Homo sapiens: one gene and its partner. The protein of the gene in region 1 interacts with the protein of each later gene in a biochemical or structural test. Each region holds a gene or a part of one and is shown on either strand. Other genes may lie near its edges.

What was found.
Region 2: of the proteins of DHX33 (region 1) and TRIM33, one has a biochemical effect on the other in vitro, tested with the Homo sapiens proteins (one study listed by BioGRID).

What each region holds. Positions count from the first base shown.
Region 1 is NC_000017.11:5,444,669-5,452,045, forward strand, and holds part of DHX33 (ATP-dependent RNA helicase DHX33), read right to left. Parts: intron 6,267-7,377; coding exon 6,139-6,266; intron 5,739-6,138; coding exon 5,535-5,738; intron 4,228-5,534; coding exon 4,141-4,227; intron 1-4,140. UniProt on the Homo sapiens protein: Implicated in nucleolar organization, ribosome biogenesis, protein synthesis and cytoplasmic dsRNA sensing. Stimulates RNA polymerase I transcription of the 47S precursor rRNA.
Region 2 is NC_000001.11:114,508,184-114,516,161, forward strand, and holds the start of TRIM33 (E3 ubiquitin-protein ligase TRIM33), read right to left. Parts: upstream 3,021-7,978; 5' UTR 2,894-3,020; coding exon 2,368-2,893; intron 1-2,367. UniProt on the Homo sapiens protein: Acts as an E3 ubiquitin-protein ligase. Promotes SMAD4 ubiquitination, nuclear exclusion and degradation via the ubiquitin proteasome pathway. According to PubMed:16751102, does not promote a decrease in the level of endogenous SMAD4.

The DNA of each region.
Region 1 (7,377 bases):
GGATCAGCAAGGTCAGGGGAAGAAGGCCCAGCTGGAGGAGCACGGACCAGAAACAGGGAAACTACCGCCTGTGAAGGTAGGGCTGGGAGGGAGGTGCTCACATTAGCCACCAGACCACAGGCAGGTTGGGTGACCCACCCCTCACCTAAATTCCATCAGGACGGCCCGGAAAGGAAAGGCCCTTCCCTCTCGCTTTGACCATCTCACCATCTCCTCACTCCGATTCACCCACCTGCTGCTGCCAAGCTAATCTACCTAAAGCACAACTCGAATCACTCTTCATCCACTCAAATACCTTCAACAATGTCTCTACTGCTCCTTGCAAAACAATGCAAACTTCCCGTGGTGAAGCCACGAAGGAGCCACCCTGAGCTGCTCGCCTGTCTTTCCTCTCACCGCTCTTTTTCTTTCTTTCTTTTTTTTTTTTTGAGGCTGAGTCTCCCTCTGTCACCCAGGCTGGAGTGCAATGGCGCAATCTCAGCTCATTGCAACCTCCACCTCCCAGGTTCAAGCTATTCTCCTGCCCTAGCCTCCCAAGTAGCTGGGATTACAGGCGCCTGCCACCACGCCTGGCTAATTTTTGTATTTTTAGTAGAAACGGGGTTTCACCATTTTGGTCAGGCTGGTCTTGAACTCCTGACCTCAAGTGATCTGCCCGCCTTGGCCTCCCAAAGTGCTGGGATTACAGGCGTGAGCCACCGCGCCCGGCCTCACCACTCTTCTTTAGACACTCCATGGTCCCCCATAGCTGGCTGCCTTCTCTTTCCTCGCCCCGTTTCATGATTCCTATCTGTGCCTTCACATTTGCTACTCTTAGTAGAAATGCTGCCTGTCTCATCAGAGGAAATGTCAGTCACCAGTCAATGTCCTTGTTCTACTGCTCTTGATGAGTGGGGCATGTAACCTACGCCCCTGGGCACAGATGAACAAACCAGTGGTACACACACGCTGGACCTAAGCTGGCCAGCTTTTCTCTTCCAGGCATCTTTTAGGTTTGAAACTGGAAAACTTGTCAATCTCTGCTGGGCTCTTGAGTGGAGGGGCCATGCAGAGAAATCACTTCCATGCGGAGGTAAAGGTGAGAAAAGGGAAGGAGGCACGCAGAGGGCACTCAAAGCAAGAGAAGCAGCAGGTCCAGAGAAAGTGGCGGGCCTGGCTCCTGCAGGCTTTTTCTGGTTCCTGTGACTCTATTTCCTGCCTATCGGTTCTCAGAGATACCTTTCCATCCTTGGAAGAATCTTTATTTTGTCCTTTATGATGGCTCTAGGGTTTCTGTTGTTGACAATCAGCTGATCTATGCCTGAAGAAGATACTTTTTTTTAAGAGACAGGGTCTCACTCTGTTGCCCAGGCTGGAGTGCAGTGGCACAATCCCAGCTCGCTGGCAACCTCTGCCTCCTGGGTTCAAGCGATTTTTGTGCCTCAGCCTCCTGAGTAGCTGGGGTTATAGGCATGCACCACCACGCTCAGCTTAGTTTTGTATTTTTAGCAGAGATGGGGTTTCACCATGTTGGTCAGGCTGATTTCGAACTCTTGGCCTCAAGCAATCCACCTGCTTGGGCCTCCCAAAGTGCTGGGACTAGAGGCATAAGCCAGCCACCACACCTGGCCTGGAAGATACTCTTTTATCTCCTTATCTGTCAAGATCTAGCTCAGTTGTCACCACCTCCAAGAAGCCCCAGAGGCTAACTGGTGGTCTCTCCTTCCAGACTATCAGCTTTACCACTCACTGGCTGAGTGATTTGGGGCAAATTATTTAACCTGATTAGGCTTAGTTTCATCATTTGTAAAATGGGAATAACAAAAGAATCAATCTTATAGGTTGAAATGAGGATTTTATCCTTTGGGTTAAGGTCTGAGTTGAAAAAGAAAAAAAAAGAAATGAGGAGTTTAAATAAGGCAGCCACATAAAAAGTACTCAGAACAGTGCTGAACAAACACTTCATGAATGATAGTGATTATTTTAATTTGATGGCCTCCTGGCATGAGTGTATGTACGTCAGGTCACCATCTAGATTATTACTTAGTTACTGAGTAGGCATGTCTGTAAAGTCTCAGGACCTTACCAGTGCCTGACATATAATGAGAGGTATCCCTGGCCACTACAGGGTCCTAAATTCACAACTAATAGAGAAGCACCGTTTCTACTGTCAATGATAAATTGAGAAAACTTATGAAGCCAAGAGACAGACTGGCAGGAAACTGTTCAAATACAAAAGCAGTTTAAAAAAATGTGTGAAAGACAGAATACAATAGGCTACTATGAGAAGAAACAGCTCTAGTGCCAACCGTAGGCCGTTGGCATCAGACACAGGCCTGGGTACAGGCTGTGACTGTCTCCCAGCAGCGTCCGCACTGAGGGGGCACAAGACATTCACCACAGAGTACTCAGGACAGCAGCAAACACACGGACACTGTCTCAGTGATCAACAGCAAAAGAACACTTCCGCTACCCTCTATCTCTGACATAAAATGTGGAGTGTCATGCGAGCATTAAATATACCATGACAGCTCTTTAAAACACCATGTACTCTAAGAGGGAATAAAAAGCTAATATAAAACTTTGTGGGCCGGGCACAGTGGCTCACACCTGGAACCCCAGCACTTTGGGAGGCCAAGGCCAGTGGATCGCCTGAGGTCAGGAGTTCGAGACCAGCCTGGCCAACATAGTGAAACCCCGTCTCTACTAAAAATACAAAAAATTAGGCCGGGCGTGGTGGCTCACGCCTGTAATCCCAGCACTTTGGGAGGCCAAAACCATCCTGGCTAACATGGTGAAACCTCGTCTCTACTAAAAATACAAAATATTAGCCGGGTGTGGTGGGTCATGCCTGTAGTCCCAGCTACTCGGGAGGCTGAGGCAGGAGAATTGCTTGAACACGGGAGGCAGAGGTTGTGGTGAGCCAAGATCGCGCCACTGCACTCCAGCCTGGGCAACAAGAGCAAAACTCCGTCTCAAAAAAAAAGAAAGGAAAAAAAACACTTTGCGGTGGACACTTTGGCAATATCTAACAAAATCCAAATTCCCCCATCTAGAAATTCATTCTGTGTGCACCACAGCACATACGGAGGATGGTCACTACAACAGAATCTAAATGACCATTATTAGAGGCTTAAATAAACTGCACTGAATACAATGAAATGCTATGAAATCACTAAAATGAATGAGCTAGACACATGCAGCACTGAAAGCCCAGCCACAGGAAGGATTTGAGAAATACGCATGTGAGGCCAGGCACAGTGGCTCACACCTGGAATCCCAGCACTTCGGGAGGCCGAGGCGGGCAAATCACCTGAGGTCAGGAGTTCGAGACCAGTCTGGCCAACGTGGTGAAACCCCGTCTCTACTAAAAATACAAAAATTAGCCAGGCGTGGTGACGCACGCCTGTAATCCCAGCTACTCGGGAGGCTGAGGCAGGAGAATCACCTGAACTCGGGAGGCAGAGGTTGCAGTGAGCGGAGGCTGTGGTGAGCCAAGATGGTACCACTGCACTCCAGCCTGGGTGACAGAGCAAGACTCTGTCTCAAATAATAAACAAGAAAGAAAGAAAGAAAGAAATATGCCATGTGGAAGAAAGGAAGTTGTGGAACATGTACCTCATATGCACGTATCCGTTATGTGTGTGCTCACACACAGGCACAGAGACATGCACAAAAACATACATACACAGAAACAAATTCTAGAAGGAGCTACCCCAAACTGTTAACAGTAGTTATCTCTGGAGGGGCAGGATTATGGGAGACTTTTAAACTTTCTACATTATAAATCACTATTTTCTGCATTGTGTCAAATACTATACACAACTTTGGTAATCTAAAAGGAAATAATGCAGATATTCATACTTAAAAAAAATCTTATGAAGAATTCTAACACTGGAAAATGCTTATAAAGATTATAAAACCAAATATAAATTATACATATAATTTACTATGTAAAAAAATACAATAAAAACTAGGCTATTAGGAAATAGGCTAAACTACTGAATTGTGGAATTGTGGGTAACTTCCTTTTTTCTTATTTGTGAAATTTGCTACAATGAGAAATCCTTTTATAATCACTAGCAATAAGCAACTTCAAAATTTCTACCTTGAACAAAGTGACAGCTTTGTCACCCACAGAACACTAGGACCAGACGATACCTTTAAGCAGATGTCCCTCAGCTGTGCTCTGACTTCTGCTACCAGCGTCATATTCTTGCTGTTGACAAAATTCTCTTTGCACCAATCCTGAATAGGAGAAAGAGTGATATCACAATCCACTCATTCACCATTTATATGTTCACAGAGACGGGGTCTTGCTCTGTTCCCTAGGCTGGAGTGCAGTGATACAATCATAGCTCACTGCAAACCAATCCTCCCACCTCAGCCTCCCAGATAGCTTGAACTATCTGCACATGCCACCATGCCCAGCTAACAATCCTCTCATCTCTATAGAGAAAATATAACAACATTTTTAGAACACAGTTGAATTCAGAGAAAAAACTTCAGGTGCCAAAAAGAAACGTAGGAAAATATCTTTATATCAAAAAACATGAACTATAAGAAAAGTGTTAATAATTTAAACTAAAGAAAAACTTGAAGTTTCCCAGATTGGGATATTTGTCTCATCATACCCAATAAATGATTAGAATCTCTAGAATTGATTTTAAAAGTTCTACAAGTCATTAAGAAAAAGACCAACGACCCAGTAGAAAAATGGACAAAGGATATGAACAGACACAGAAAACAAAACAGAAATGCCCAGTCAATTTATGTAAGACTTCTTTCTTTTTTCTTTTTTTGGAGATAGATAGAGTCTCGCTCTGTCACCTAGGCTGGAGTGCAGTGGCACGATCTCGGCTCACTGCAACCTCTGCCTCCCAGGTTCAAATGATTCTCATGCCTCAGCCTCCCGAGTAGCTGGGATTACAGGTATGCACAACCACGCCCGGCTAATTCTTGTATTTTTAGTAGAGACGGGGTTTTGCCATGTTGGCCAGGCTGGTCTGGAAGTCCTGGGCTCAAGTGATCCACCTGCCCTGGCTTCCCAAAGTGCTGGGATTACAAGCTTGAGACACTGTGCCTGGCCCTGGGCAAGTTTTTCAACTGCACGAAGCTTCGTTTCCATGACTACATGTTTCATGAATATAAAAAATAATAATTATAGTGCTCATTTCTTAGGATTACTTTACTGAATAAATGAGATCTTACATTAAGAAGTGCTTAGCATGGGGCTTGGCACAGAGTAAGTACTCATTCATTGGTACGCACTATCATTATTAGACATATTACTTAATCAAGTTCCAATTAAGTTTTGATGGGTTGGGAGTCACTTAAGTCTTGTTGACTTAAACACATTCGGAACAGAGACCAGAATGACACTGCTTCGGTACTGAAGCATTTCTGAAATGCTGTCTGGCTTTCTTTTTGTGATTCTTTAGATAATTTAGCCAAAAAGGGAAAGCGTACTTTTTGCACGGCTTCAGTAGAAAAAGGGAAGCACATAGCAGAGACAAGCAGCTATCGCTGGAGAACAGGTGCAAGACAAGGCTCACCTTATTTCCGCCTAGGTTTTTGAAGGTCCGATAGATATTGAGCAGGGTCATGTGATCCCCCTCGCTGGATATGAACTTCTTGCGGACCCCTTGCACTTCCTCTCGCCGGGAAGGAGGGTTGTGGAGGACGCTGTCCACAGACAGCAGGGAGACAATGGTCAGGATCTCCTCTGTACAGTGGAATTTGGGGGACATGAGGATGGTCTGCAAAGCAAAATTTAAAATTGTGTAAACCCAGCTTTCTCCTAGCTTTAGAATGCACTATTTCTGTACATTGCTTTTGCAGTTTCCCTTCTAAGGAGTTAAAGGGCAGGTATTTCTAAAACCATGGCGATGTACATTAGTGTTATTTCACTCTTTAATATTCAATAAAACAGGTGACTGCCTTCCCTACAGAGTTCCAAATTTCTTGTGGGTAGGGGCTCTTAACTTCATCTCTTTGAATCCCACACTGAACATGAATCAGGGCTATTTGCAAACTAGGGGTTGGTAATTATGTAAGAGAAAAAGTGAGATTAATCTAGAAGCACTGGGTAGATGGTACTACTTTGGGACGGTTAACTGTAATGTACAGAAAGAGGACTGAGGAGAGGGTATCATTTACTTTGGCAAATTTGGGTTCTAAAGGAAATGCTGCCATCTTTCTTCCCATTGGAGTCAGGGTAAGCTGGTCATCCTTATGTTCAAGAGCACCTAACAGGTCCAGTTGGGCAATGGCCGCCTGAATGTGATCTAAAGAAACAGAGACATAAAAAGGAGCCAAAAGTCCAAAAAAATGAAGTTGCAGCTAGTTCAGTATTTCTGGGAGCTTCTGATAATTCTACATCAAACAACAGCAAAAATCATAACCGCCACTGCCCCCTTGACACACTTGTCAAAGAACGACATCACTGTCTTTAGTTCAATTCCCTTTTCTTTTTTGAGACAGAGTCTTGCTCTGTTGCCCACACTGAAGTGCAATGGCGTGATCTCGGCTCATTGCAGCCTCTGCCTCCTGGGTTCCAGCGATTCTCCTGCCTCAGCCTCCCCTATAGCTGGGACCACAGGCGCCCACCACCGCGCCCAGCTAATTTTTGTATTTTTAGTGAGACGGGGTTTCACCATGTTAGCCAGGCTGGTCTCAAACTCTTGACCTCAGGTGATCTGCCCACCTTGACCTCCCAAAGTGCTAGGATTACAGGTGTGAGCCACCATGCCCAGCCTCAATTTTCTTTTTAAATGACCTGTAATTTGGCAATATGTATGTAGATTTTGAATATACACATTAAAAGTGTAACATCTGACCCAGCAATGTTACACTTACGAATTTCACCTGCAGATACACATCGCACAGAGACCATATCGCCAGAACCAAACACATAACAGTGGAAATAGCAGTTGTCTCAGGGGCCAGCTGGGGAGGCTGGGAGACAAGGGGATGAGAAGGACATTATTACTATTTACTATTTTATATATTTTAAACTTTGAACCATGTAAATATAGTACCTATTAAAGAATAAAAAAGCATTTCTAAGGATGTAGTAAATATATACATCCCAATAAGGAGTGATCTGTAAAATGTATTAAATGAAAAAAAGCAGTGTGTTTCTCATTGCTTTTTTAAAGCAATATTTATCAACTGAAGGATGGATAAATGCATTTTGGTTTATTCACAGAATGGAATAGCACTTAGTGTGAAAAAGCATCAGCACAAATATACTATACGGAACAAGCTGAATGAAAACCGCTTACTCAAGAATAACTAACATAAACTTACAAACAACAGGTGGTTTAGGGATACATACGCATATAGTAAAACAGTGAAGAAAAGCAAGGCAATTACAAACAAAATATGGAAGAGTGG
Region 2 (7,978 bases), on another chromosome or scaffold:
GAGAAATATTACTTAAGATTGACAGCATTTGGTTAGTCCCTTCCACTTACTCCCCCTCCTTCAAAAAGAAAGGATAAAGAAATGAAGAGGGGATTTACATATTATTCTCTCTCCTTCATAAATTTCAGAGAGCCAATTTCATAACCTCAGTCCCTCAGCCACATCAGTCAAACACAATCTGTATTTCTGGGTTCCCTCTAAATCTCTTACCTAACCCAGGTTCCCACAAGAACACTGAATCCTATGTGTCTTACTATGGTCATGGGTGCACAGACCACCAGCAGTTATTCTCTGAACACCTACTAACAATTAGTAGCTTCTCCAACAACCAAAGCCTTACTCTTAACATTCTTACCTACATGTACCAATAATGCTAGAAACCCAAAACATCCCAATCTGAAAACATTTTATCCTCCCTACACCCCAGCCCTCACCCTCACCCCAGCCCTGCTTCAGTGTCTGAATATGTATTAATAGCATTGCCATCCACCAAACAAAAAATGTGGAATTCTACGTTTGTCTCCCTCACACCAATCTCAATACACTCCCCCCATCCCTCCATTCCCATAGCCACTATTAGTTACTACTATTAATATACTAGCTACCATTTCATTAGTAACTACCACGTACTAATCACTTTACACATTTTATCTTACTTCATTCTCTCAATAACCCTATGAGGTTATATACTTTTTTCCCATTTCACAAATGAGAAAACTGAAGCTAAGAAAAGGTCATCTGCCCAAGTCGTAAGTAGGAGATGGCAAAGTAGATTTCCAAACCCTACCGTTCCCCCAAACCAAAATGCTTCATTCTGTAATACCTGATATATCATTCCTTTACTACCCATTCCAAATGTTGATTTCTTTCCTAGATAACCGCCAGGATTCTCCTAACTGGTCTCCTTGTCTCCAGCCTTGCCTTCCCTCATCCCTCAAGTGCCCTAAGTGATCTTTCTGGATCAGAAATCTGATCCTTTTATCCTCTTGATATGAAAGCCCTCCAGGAACATCCTTCAGTCCACAATGTCGAGGATACACTCTACAGGATGAATTCCAAGCCCTTTAGTGCAGCTCCACAATCGCTTACCTACAGTCCCGAAATTCAAAAGCTTTGAAATTTTAATTTTTTTCATTGGTTTGCAACAGAACCCACTGTGAATGCTGGGAGGTTATTTATCGTCTATCCCATTAGCGTGACATTCACGTGTTTCAATGTAGAAACATTAACGTGTTTGATAGAGTTAACTCAGACCCTGATAAAAGTCTCACATAACAGACCTTGCCAGAAAAAAGAAAAATCCCAAAATATTCTGAAGTCCTTACACCTGGATCCCAAGAGTTTAAGAGACTGTGAAACCTTTATCTTTTCAGCCCATCAATCCAATCTAATTTCCACCAATCACCCTACACAGTCTTTAGTTCCAGGGATGTAGAAGGGTGTCCTGTGCCCTGAATACCCTCCAACCCAGTGAGGTACTCATTCTTCAAGAAACCTGTTCATGGATTTCCTTTCCTGTGAAATTTCCCTGACCTTTCCTCTATTGTGCCACAACCATTGTACTGAGGACTCACCTCCACTGCTGCAAGTTATATGTTTCTCCTGTTAGACTGTGAATGAAGTCTTCATTGAGTACTTTATTCAATCCTAGCACAGTGCCCCAACACTAGGGGCTCATTAACGGCCAATTAGCTAAAACAAATTCATGCCCAGCTTTCCCTAACTCTCAATTTCCTTCAAAGTTCATTTCTCCTTCATCCCCAAACCTTAGGATTTTCCCTAACCATGCAGTCCACTTTCCGAGTTTCTCTTTCCCCATGTCATCTTACAATTTTCTTCCAGGCGCCTTCTCTGGACCCCTTGCTCTCCAACATATTCTCTCCACCTCCATTTAATCCATAGTCCTCCTCTCTCCTATCTGTGAACACGCCAAGTCCCCTCCCTCCAAAGCAATCCATCTTCACTGCCCTTACCTCTTACCTACTCCCTCAACACCTCGCTGGCCCGGGCCCTTTCAGCCAAAACGCTTCCTCACAACGTGTTTCCCAAATCCCCCTTCTCTCACTGTACGGGTCTGCCAGCTCCAGAACCAGCGCTCGGCCGGGTTCCGCACATCACAAACCCTCCCTCGGAGCCAGTGTCCCCTCCCCCAGCCTCTCGCAGCCGGCACCCCTCCCTTCATGCTCCCCTTATCTCTTGCGGTCCAGCTTCTCTGGAAAGTGTCCCAGGGGCGAGTCTTTCACCTTAGAGACCCCTCGGGATGGCGCCCGTCCGAGCAGCCCCAGGCCCCAGCACCTCCGTCCCCAGCTCCTCTAGGGTTGCGCAAATCCCTTGCGGCCCAGATGCCAGGCAGGGCCTCCGGCTCACCTTGCTGGATGTCGCCGTTGCTGCCCCCCGGGATGGGCACGCTGAGCTGGCGCTCCGGCTCGGGCAGGCAGCGCAGGCAGAAGGAGTGAAGACAGGGCAGCAGCTTGGGCTCCGCCTCACGCCGGCTCTGCAAGCTCTGCTGACACACGGCGCAGGTGTCCAGGAGCGAGGCTGGCGGTCCAGGAGGCGGCCCTGCCGAGGGACCCGGAGCGGGAGCCGAGGCTGGAGCTGGAGCCGGCGTCGATACTGCGCCCCCGGCAACTCCAGTGCCCACTGAGGCCGCAGGAGATGAAGCAGCCTGGGCCGAGCCCGAGGAGGCCGCGGCCACCCCCCCGTCGTCGGGCCCGGCCGCGCCGCCCTCAGCGCCGGCCCTGCCGCCTTCCTCCTCCTCCTCCTCCACCAGCACCGCGGTGAGAGGCGGCTCCGCCTCCTGCGCGGCGGGCCCGGCGGCCCCGGCAGTTACCGGCGCGCTGCCGCTGCCCCCGCCGCCGCTCTCAGCCTCGCCGCCGCCTTTGTTTTCCGCCATGTTTTCCTCTTTGAACCCGCCGGACCGCCCCGCGCCGCCCGCCGCCCGCGTCGCCGCCGCCGCCGCCCCCAGCCCCAGCCGCAGCCGCAGCAAGAGCGGCAGCCGAGAGCTAGCGAGAGAGCGAACCAACGAGAGCGCGCGCGCACGCGGCGCCCCCGCCCTCGCGTCGCGCGTTTGAAGGAGGGCGGTTGCGGCACGCGCACGTACGCACGGACGTCCTCCCGAGGGAGGCGGGAACTCGGTTCGCGGGCGCGGAGCGGTCCCGGACCCTCGAAGCCAGTTCCTTGCGTCAGTGCCGCGGCTCTTTAACCCGAAGGGAGATTTTTTTTTTAAAGCCAGAGGCCGTTGACGCTGGGTAGCCTTTGGCTGGGGTTGGTTATGAACTCCGACACAGCGGTGGTGCATACGGAAGGGTGGTAGCCGGGACGGTTCCGGTCCCTGCGAGCGTGTCCCGGGCGTCTCCGCGGAAGTTTCACCTGCCGCGCCGCTCGATCGCCGGGACCTCCTGGGTCTCTGCTGTGCGTAGACCAGCCGCGTTCCTTTGGGTGGCCGTGGAGCACTAAAGCGGGGCTTATTGTTTGTTTGGTTTTGGTTTTTTTTTTTGTTTTTTTTTTGCTTTTTGTTTTTGAACTGAGGATCTATCAGAAATAGGCTGAAAAGACCGAGTGAGGAAGAAACTCTTTAACAGCTATTTTTGGCATCTTAAGGTGATTCTCAGGAGTTGCTACGTATCAGAATCAACGGAGGAGTTTTTCAAAGCAGAGATGCCAGGGCCAGTCCCCAGACCTGAATCAGGAAGTGAGGGAGAGAGCCGACGGAGGGGGAAAAGTCCCTTCAGCTGATTCTTATGTATGTCAGTTTGGAGAGCCACGGATATAACCAATACTGCGTCCTTCTGAGGTCCCACTTTAAGTGTCCTGGGTTGAGCTGGGTGACAAATGCCCTTACAACAATGGTAGTAGAAGCTTTCAGGCCAAGCGCAGTGGCTCACGCCTGTAATCCCAGCACTTTGGGAGGCCGAGGCGGGCAGATCACTTGAGGTCAGGTCAGGAGTTCGTGGGCAGCCTGGCCAATATGGTGAAACCCCGTCTCTACTAAAAATATAAAAATTAGCCGGGTGTAATGGCGTGCGCCTGTAATCCGAGCTACTCAGGAGGCTGAGGCAGGAGAATGGCTTGAACCCGGCAGGAGGCGGAGGCTGCAGTGAGCCGAGATAGCGCCACTACACTCCAGCCTGGGCGACAGAGCGAAACTCCGTCTCAAAAAAAAAAGAAAAGCTTTCAGAAAGTTGCCTTTTTATTTGAAAAAAAAAAAAAGGTATTTGGAGGATTTTATGTAGTGCAACAACTGTTTTAGTGTTAAGATCATGAAATGCTTTGGTCTCCTGTTAGTGTTCCCAAGAAAGGTGCTGTAAGTCCTTAAACCACGTGAAAACTTTTTTTTTTTTTGAGACCTCCTCGTTCTGTCGCCCTGGCTGGAGTGCAGTGGCGTCATCACATTTCATTGCAGCCTCGACTTCCCAGGCTCAAGCCGTGCTCCTCGCAATTACCTGGGACCGTAGATGCACGCCACCATGACTTAGCTGATCTTTTTTTTCCCTTTGCCTCGAAGAGGCTGGGGTCTCACCATGTTGCCCAGGCTGAAACTCCTGGGCCCGAGCGATTGGCCCGCCTCAGCCGCTGGAAATGCTAGCATTACAGGCATGAGCCACTGCGCCCAGCCTCCTGAAAACTTTTTAAAATTTATTCAAAAATGTTTCCTGACCTCTTTATTGTCATAGTGTTTTAGAGATACACTGGGATTACAAAACAGAGGAGCTCCCTGCATTCAAGGGGTTTACAATCTAATAGAGAAAAAGATTGAGAATAGATACATGCCAGGGAGTGGTAAGTGCTGTGAAGAAAAGAATAAGTGGGGTAAAAGGGGTTAGAGGTGATTGAAGAAGGCCCCTGTTGATCAGATGAAGGAACCTGTCTTGGAGAAGAGCAGGAGAGGAACACATAACAAGTGCAAAGGGCCTGAGGGAAACGGATTCTTGGCTTGTTAGAGGAGGAGTCAGTGTGGCTGGAGTGGCTTGAACAAGGGAGAGAATAGTAGGACATGAGATAAGAGAGTTATTAAGGGAGCCAGGTCATGTACAGAAATGGTCTTCAATTTTTTTTTTAACTTTTGTGCCCTTTGAAAGAATTTTGGAAGGCTGTTTTCTTTCCTCAAACATTGTAAGTTGACTAAATTTTTTCAGAAGTTTAAATAGTTGCAGAGTTTAATTTGTGACATTCTGTAATACTGACATTTAAAAATTATTTTTAATCTAATAGGGAAGTAAACACTAAAGTGGCTTAATACTATCCATTTTTTAAAGTATATTAAAATGTTATATTTTTTAAACATGGAAAAGTATTGGGAATGTTTTAATGATATGGCTGGGAGTCTTCCCCCTTCCCCTAATTATTTCGAGTAGGCATGAATGCATATAACATTGCTAGAATGAGATAAGGTCCTGTATCAACTCCATTTTTCATTGCCACAGTCTTTACTGCATTAAAAACTATATATGTATACATGTATGTATCTACACACTCACATATATGATGGAGTAATTCCCTTAAAACTACCCTTACTTTTTTATGTACCCCTTGGAAAATTTTCCTTCACTGAAGTACCCCAGGAGTACTCATACCCTAGCCTTAGGACCACTGAGTCAGATAGGAAGGCTTGGATGGGTTTTGAGCAAAGACTCAAAGCAGAATTGTGAAAAGAGTCACTGTGGCTGCTTCCTAGAGGAATCACCTGTAAATGGTCAGTGGAATAAGGAAGACCAGTTAAGGGGCTAATAGGGTAATAACTCGGTTGGTTGGATCAGGTTAGAATCTGTAAAGGTGGTGAAAAATATGGAGTATAAATCATAAACACTTCTTCTCAAATTCACTTCAAAAAAATAAGCTAATGAACTGAATTTCTCAACCAAAAGTTTTGCTTCCATGAGTTTTCTTAACCTTTTGATGCCTGCTACATTTGCCTTTATTAAAATCTAGAATAAAAGTGTTGTTTTTGAAAACTATATAATTTGTATAGGATGGAAACAGCCCCCATGAAGTTCACTGTGTGCTCTGAGAAGGCAGTGCCTGGAGTATAACTCATGAAATATTTAGGATCATTGAAACAGACCCAGTTACATCCTTGATTTTCTGTGGGAGCCCAGAAATCTTGCAGGAGAAACTATGAAATAAGTCCACAGATGAGGCTGAGATACGATAATGCACAAACCTGTCTAATAGACTGCATAGCATGGGGTTCATTATGCCCTGGGACAAAATGCTTGGTTTGAATCTGGTTCCATCACCTACTAGCTATGTGATTTAGGGAAACTTACTTAGGTTGCCTCAGTTCCCTCAGTCATGAAAGGGTGTTTGCTACGGGTAGGACCTACCTCAAGGTTGCCTCACAAACAATATTTGTAAAACGTTAATAACAGCACCCAGCACATGGTGAACATGGATGTTAAAGTAGACCCAAAGTTCCCTGAAGGAAACAGAACTGGCAGGAGAAACACATGCCACTGAGAGAAAATTTCAAGAAGAGGAATCATGCTGTGGCCCAAACTGAGCAGCAGGTAGAGGTAGAGGCTGTGTCCAGCCATTTTCCTGACCTAGGCTACTATCCCTTGTTCCTCTGGTTTGAGCATTATCAGAAAAAACCAGTTCTGAAATAAAGGAAAGAGCTCTTAGGAGGTTCATAGCAGTTCTGCTATGAAGAAAACTCCTCTAAGTTGCTGGTAAACAATAGTGGAAGGAGTTTTCCAGTTGTCTAGGAAAGAGAAAGGGCATTGGAGGTGAGTGACCCAGGTAGGTAAGCAATGGTGAGAACACGATGTGTCCATCATCTGGGCACAGGAGGTTGGCAAAAGCAAGGCAGTAGCCCAAGGGTAGCGTGAAGATTTGCAAAGGCTGGTCTGCACCTTCTGGACAGAGCAGCCATGCTGAACAGCAGGAACAGAAGAGTACATGAGAACCGGCAGAAGGATGCTGAGCTGCAGCTGAAATCTGGGATATTTCTGTAAATGTACAATACTTGCACTCACCAATGGGTGAGGCCAGAGGATCTAAAGGTGACATTTTATCTTTTAAAGTTCACTTCTCAACTGGGTGTGGTGCCTTACACCTGTAATACCAGCACTTTGGAGGAAAACAGGAGGATCACTGGAGGCCAGTAGTTCAAGACCAGCCTGGGCGACATAGCAAGACCCCCATCTCTACAAAAAAAATTTATTAATACAAATTTTAAAAATAATGTAAAGTTTAGTTCTCATCATTCCATGGTGTACCAAGTACACTTTGACTTCTAGGTACTCTGTTGTCTGAGTGAGAACTATTAGTACCAAGAAAAGCAGGACAGATAGCAGAGTTCTGAGTCTAATTACTATCTATTGGCTTTTCTGTGTCTCTAAGGCCTTTCAGGGGCACGTTGTAATTCTAGTAATAAACACCACATTTGAACAGCAGTTTACAGTTGACAAAGTGCTTTCACACACATCTCTTAATTTTTGCAACCAGTAAAATATAGCTCAACAATAAATAGACTTCCTTATGTGAATGTACTGTAATGTATTATCTATTCATAGACAATAAGGTTTTCAATTTTTTACTATTATAAACAATACTGTGAAAAGCATTGTGATGCATAATTATTTGCATATCTATAATTATTTCTTCTGAATATTCCTAAAAGAATTGCTGATTCAAAGAATATGCCCATTGTAAAAGTTTTTAATATGTAAATTTAAAGTATTCCATATGGATTATTAAATTGTTTTGATGTATTTTGCTACTATAAATAAAAAAGTGAAATTAACATGCAATTTTTTTCCTTTTTTTTTTTTTTTTCCTAAAGATCCCTATTTCCATGACCAGGCGCTGTGGCTCATGCCTGTAATCCCGGTGCTTTGGGAGGCCAAGGCTAAAGGGTTACTTGAGACCAGGAGGTTGCAACCAGCCTGGGCAATATAACAAGACCCCCATCTCTACAAAAAAAAGTTTTAAAAATTAGACAGGTGTGATGTCTTATCTGTAGTCCTAGCTACTTGGG